Homo sapiens: one gene and its partner. The protein of the gene in region 1 interacts with the protein of each later gene in a pairwise test. Each region holds a gene or a part of one and is shown on either strand. Other genes may lie near its edges.

Region 1 (2,655 bases):
AGGCAATCCACCCACCTCAGCCTCCCAAAGTGCTGGGATGACAGGCGTGAGCAACCGCACCCAGCTTAAGGTTTTTTTGTTTTGTTTTGAGACGGAGTTTTCGCTCTTGTTGCCCAGGCTGGAGTGCAATGCTGTGATCTCAGCTTACCACAACCTCCACCTCCCGGGTTCAAGTGATTCACCTGCCTCAGCCTCCTGAGTAGCTGGTATTACAGGCATGCGTCACCACGCCGGCTAATTTTGTACTTTTAGTAGAGATGGTGTTTCCCCACGTTGGTCAGTCTGGTCTCAAATTCCTGACCTCAGGTGATCTGCCTGCCTCGGCCTCCCAAAGTGCTGTGATTACAGACGTCAGCCACCATGCCTGGCCTGAAACCTTTTTTAGGTAAAGTTGAATTCCATCCTTAAAAGTTTCTGTTATATCCTATTTAGCCATTTTCTATTGTCTCCCAAAGAATTCACATCAAAAAAACAGCTTTGAACTCCCCCTTCAAAGGAAACAGTCGACTTTCATAATTAGCATCTACCATTATCCCCAAATCTTATTTTATTCATTGACTTGAAATTTTTTCCAATTGCTTTTTTTTTTTTTTTTTTAAGGTTAAGAGCAGAGGTTTACTAGGCCAAAGAAAGAGAATAGCTCTCTGTTGCAGAGAGGGGTCCTGGAGAAATGGGTTACCCCAGTTGTCTTATTTAAATGGTTACCCATCAGATTTTAATTTTATCTTCTCTTTGAGAGCTTGGTAATAAGAAGCACTTAAATCACTCCAAAGAAGACTTTAAAAAGGGAGCAGTGAAAAGGTCTTAATAATTTATTGATTGAATTAAGAAATACTAGCTAATTAAGAATCTGAGTCTAAACAGCACAGATTTTTTCTTTCTGCTTTTAAATTGTGTTTTAAAAAAAGAGACAGGGGGCTGGGCGTGGTGGCTCACGCCTGTAATCCTAGCACTTTGGGAGGCCGAGGCGGGTGGATCACGAGGTAGGAGTTAAAGACCAGCCTGGCCAACATGGCAAAACCCTACTAAAGATACAAAAAAAAAAAAAAATTAGCCAGGCGTGGTGGTGGGTGCCTGTAATCCCAGGTACTTGGAAGGCTGAGGCAGGAGAATCTCTTGAACCCAGAAGGCGAAGGTTGCAGTGAACCGAGATCATGCCATTGTACTCTAGCCTGGGTGACAAGAGCAAGACTCCGTCTCAAAAAAAAAAAAAAAAAAAAAAAGAAGTAGAGACAGGGAGACAGGGTCTCACTGTGTTGCCTAGGCCGGTCTTGAACTCCTGGGCTCAAGTGATTCTCCCACCTTGACCTCCTAAATTGTTGGGATTACAGGTGTGAGACAGTGCACCTGGCCGAAATAGCTCAAGTTTCTGAAAAACAAATCTGAATCTATTTGTTATTCTTAGCGTCACTGGTCTGGCTTTCAGAATTAACATACAAGGTTGCCACACCTAGTTCTGCCCAGCTTTATGTCTTTTATTCCAGTATTCCACCAAAGTTTGTTTTCCTGCATTCCAGTTCTCAAGTCTTAAGATAAAGATTGTACTTGACAGTTTAGTATATCCATAAAACTATTTGAGGTGGTTAAGGTTCTTGGGTTCATTTTCCTTAATACTTTGCTGAATATTGTAGATTGTAGGCAATGAAAAAGTCTACTAAATTAGGAAAACCTTGAATAATTAGGTATCCTAGGTAAGAGCCCCTAAACATCAAGCAATCTGTGAGTCTGTAAAGAAATAAATATTTTTTGGATTATTCTTATCTAATTCCACCCCTGTTGGAAGATGATTTCTTTGTTCTTTGCAACTATGGAAGCTGTGAAAATCATCACAAGTGCCTCTGAAAGCGAGTGTTAGGTTGGTTAGAGGGTTTAATATTTTCTGCAATGGTTTGTAGGAATTTTAATAAATGTAGTATATTTTCTGAGATGATTTTGTAAAAGTACTATTTTAAATATCAAATCAACCAATAAATTCACATTTGTGTTAGGAACAGAAATATGGTTTATATCTTTGCTGGCTTGGTTTCCTTTTTCTTAATGTCTCTGGGAGGCTTATTCCTTCATTGTGGAAATTTTAGCTATTTAAACATGTAAATTTTTCTTTCTACAGCCAGGTAACTATAAACACAGCCAATAGATTTTACACAAAGCAATCCTAGAAGTATCAGAATGGGTTTTGAAAAGTTCAAGTCCATCATGTGATCATGTTTGGCTACTTTAAAAAAGCAAAAAAGTTCAAGTCTAACGATCCCATTTGTGAAATCCACAGAGCAGAAAGAAAGGAAGCTTTTACTATTTTAACTATCTCTTGAACGTGAAAAGTTATTGATGCAGTGAGGTCGAATGCACACCTACTGCTTCCTAAGCTCTGGAACATGAATCTCCTTCCTCTGTCATCTCCCCAGAATTGGAACCTCCTTAATCCAACCATCTCACTATTGGTCAGTCTAGTGATTGAGAAATAGGAAAAGCCACAGGTTGAAATGATGAAATGTCATTACACTGAAAGATAATACCAAAGTACAAAGTCCTAGGCACAGTCTTGTCAATTCCCTCTTGTCTAAGTGGTGTGGCAAATATTATTGTCACTTTTCAGAGAAAACTGAGGTGTAGAGAAATAAATAAATGAAGTTTTTTACAGTCATTCCACAAGTT
Region 2 (3,658 bases), on another chromosome or scaffold:
AAAAAAAAAAGAGAAATAGAGATGTTATCAGTCAGTGAAGAGTAACCAGGGAGTTTCATTGTCCAGGTTTGGTAGGGCAAGGGAAGATCTTTCTTGAATCATCTTTAGCTTCAGGAGCACAGCTGTTTGAAAGATGAGAGAAATGGCTTAGCTACCTGGAGGGTTAATTATAAAACAGAGGTCCTGTTGCCTTCCGATCTGATCACTTGCATCTCATTTGCAGATCACCTTTAGGCTCCACAGCCTCTGCCCCAGCACCCTCAGCACTCCCGGCCCCTCCAGCACCCCCAGTCTTCCATGGCATGCTGGAGCGGGCCCCAGCAGAGCCCTCCTACCGTGCTCCCATGGAGAAGCTTTTCTACTTACCTCATGTCTGCAGCTATACCTGTCTGTCTCGAGTCAGACCTATGAGGAATGAGCAGTACCGGGGCAAGAACCCTCTGCTGGTCCCGTTACTATATGACTTCCGGCGGATGACAGCCCGGCGTCGAGTTAACCGCAAGATGGGCTTTCATGTTATCTATAAGACACCTTGTGGTCTCTGCCTTCGGACAATGCAGGAGATAGAACGCTACCTTTTCGAGACTGGCTGTGACTTCCTCTTCCTGGAGATGTTCTGTTTGGATCCATATGTTCTTGTGGACCGAAAGTTTCAGCCCTATAAGCCTTTTTACTATATTTTGGACATCACTTATGGGAAGGAAGATGTTCCCCTATCCTGTGTCAATGAGATTGACACAACCCCTCCACCCCAGGTGGCCTACAGCAAGGAACGTATCCCGGGCAAGGGTGTTTTCATTAACACAGGCCCTGAATTTCTGGTTGGCTGTGACTGCAAGGATGGGTGTCGGGACAAGTGAGTTGGTGGGGGGAATTGCTGCCCCTGCTTCCAACTTTGTTATGGTGTCTGTTTCACCTCTTCCTTTGCCTTGTATCTGTACTGCTTTCCCCATCTTCCTTTACCTCCTCCCTCACCTGGAACTCCTGCTATAAGGCCTCCATGAAAGCTATGAGGTAGGGAGGCTGGAGTCTGACATGGCCACACTGAGCAACCTTGGGTACATGTGTATTGTGTTATTTTTGTTCTCTGATCCCCCCGCTCCTTTCCTTTATTTCCCTCTGTCATATAGGTCCAAGTGTGCCTGCCATCAACTAACTATCCAGGCTACAGCCTGTACCCCAGGAGGCCAAATCAACCCTAACTCTGGCTACCAGTACAAGAGACTAGAAGAGTGTCTACCCACAGGGTAAGTGGTCAAGGAATGGCACAGTACCTCAGAGAGACTGAGGAGCATGTTCTTGTTTTTCTGTGCTTATAGAAATCATCAGAAATCTAAAAATTGGAACCAAAAATAGAATACCAGATGAGGCATTTTATTAATTAGATCTTATTTCATGACTTCCAAAACACATTTTTTTTCTTGGACCTTCCTTGAAATGAAGACATAGAATGATTGAATAGTATCTAGCAATTTTCTGTTGCAAAAAAAGATTATCTTAATTTCATAGCTAAATGAATGTCTTAACAGATTGTGATTTACACTTGTAAGTGAAATGTGTTCAGAGAGGAGAAGTAGGCAGGGACCTGATTACATAGGGCTTTGTAAATCAGAATGAAAAAAGTTAGAATCAGGCTGGCACAGTGGCTCACACCTGTAATCCCAGCACTTTCGGAGGCCAAGGTGGGTGGATCACCTGAGGTCAGGAGTTTGAGACCAGCCTGGCCAACCTGGTGAAACCCTGTCTCTACTAAAAATACAAAAATTAGCCGGGGGTGGTGGCGGGTGCCTGCAGTCCCAACTACTTGGGAGGCTGAGGCAGGAGAATCGCTTGAATCCAGGAGGCAGAGGTTGCAGTGAGCCAAGATCATGCCACTGCACTTCAGCCTGGGTGACAAGAGCGAGACTCTGCCTTAAAAAAAAAAAAAGAAAAGTTAGAATCAAATTCATGGTGCTCTTACAGGATTTTAAGCTGCCAAGTGATGTGACCTGCCTTTTTCAGATTACTCTGGCTTCTTTGTAGATCATAGGTCTTAGGATGGCAAAAGTAGATTTTGGAAGACCAATTAGGAGATCGTTATAGGAGTACAGCAGAGAGAGACATTGTTGCAGCTATGACTTGCAATAGAATGGAGGTGATAGTAGAGGTAAGAAGGATAGATTTGGGCTGTATTAATAGGTAGAGCTACAGAATTGGATAGATTATGGAGTGGGGGGAAAGAGTAGAATCAAGGACAATTCCTAAATTTTTGGCTTGAGCATCTTAGTGGTTGTTGGTGCTTTTTACTGAGATGGAAGACCGAAGGAGTAGTAGGTTTGAGTGAAATTCAGTTTTTGTTTTGGCCATGTTAAGTTTGAAATGCCGCCGGGCGCAGTGGCTCACGCCTGTAATCCCAGCACTTTGGGAGGCTGAGGCGGGCGGATCACCTGAGGTCGGGAGTTCAAGACCAGCCTTGACCAACATGGAGAAATCCCGTCTCTACTAAAAATACAAAAAAAAAAAATTAGCCGGGCATGGTGGCGCATGCCTGTAATCTCAGCTACTCGGGAGGCTGAGGCAGGAGAATTGCTTGAATCTGGGAGGCGGAGGTTGTGGTGAGCTAAGATCGCACCATTGCACTCCAGCCTGGGCAACAAGAGCGAAACTCAGTCTCAGAAAACAAAACAAAACAAAAAGTTTGAAATGCCTGTCAGGCAATCCAAGTAGAAATGTCAAGAAGACACTGGGATTTCTGGAGAGAGTGGGATATAAAAATTTAGGAATCATCAGCACAGGAGTATTTAAAGCCTGAATAAGTTCACCTAGAGACAATGTTGATAATAGAGAAGGCGGCTCAGGAGTAAGCCCTGGGTGCCCCAACATTTAAAGGTTGAGCAGAGGAGGTGGAACCAGCATGAGGTTGAGGACAGCTACTGAGGAGGGTGAGGCCGAAAGATTACTTGAGGCCTGGAGTTTGAGACCAGACTGGGCAACATAGTAAGACCCTGTGTCTAAAAAAAAATTGTTGGGGCTGGGCGTGGTGGCTCACGCCTGTAATCCCAGCACTTTTCGAGGCTGAGGCAGGCAGATCACTTGAGGTCAGGAGTTCAAGACCAGCCTGGCCAATATGGTGAAACCCCATCTCTACTAAAAATACAAAAAACTTGCCAGGGATGGTGGCGAGCACCTGTAATCCCAGCTACTTGGGAGGCTGAGACAGGAGAATCACTTGGACCCAGGAGGTGGAGGTTGCAGTGAGCCAAGACCGCACCATTGCACTCCAGCCTGGGCAAGAAAAGCAAAATTCTATCTCAAAAAAAAAAAAAAATTGTTGGCCATGCGCGGTGGCTCATGCCTGTAATCCCAACACTTTGGGAGGCCAAGGTGGGTGGATCACCTGAGGTCAGGAGTTCAAGAACAGCCTGGCCAACATGGTGAAACCCCATCTGTAATAAAAATACAAAAATTAGCCAGGCGTGATTGTGCACGCCTGTAATCTCAGCTATTTGGGAGGCTGAGGCAAGAGAATCGCTTGAAGCTGGGAGGCAGAGATTACAGTAAGCTGAGATTGCACCACTGCACTCCAGTCTGGACAACACAACAAGACTCCGTCTCAAAAAAAATGATTTAAAAATTAAAAAAAAAATTTTTTTTTTTTTTAGATGGAGTCTTGCTCTGT

The links. Proteins that work in one complex are often made in the same cells at the same time.
Region 2: the proteins of TMT1A (region 1) and SETDB1 interact in binary tests that used the Homo sapiens proteins (3 or more experiments, as listed by UniProt).

Annotation. Positions count from the first base shown.
Region 1 is NC_000012.12:50,930,512-50,933,166, forward strand, and holds the end of TMT1A (thiol S-methyltransferase TMT1A precursor), read left to right. Parts: 3' UTR 1-1,997; downstream 1,998-2,655. UniProt on the Homo sapiens protein: Thiol S-methyltransferase that catalyzes the transfer of a methyl group from S-adenosyl-L-methionine to alkyl and phenolic thiol-containing acceptor substrates.
Region 2 is NC_000001.11:150,950,235-150,953,892, forward strand, and holds part of SETDB1 (histone-lysine N-methyltransferase SETDB1), read left to right. Parts: intron 1-223; coding exon 224-856; coding exon of another isoform or gene 857-860; intron 861-1,130; coding exon 1,131-1,247; intron 1,248-3,658. UniProt on the Homo sapiens protein: Histone methyltransferase that specifically trimethylates 'Lys-9' of histone H3. H3 'Lys-9' trimethylation represents a specific tag for epigenetic transcriptional repression by recruiting HP1 (CBX1, CBX3 and/or CBX5) proteins to methylated histones.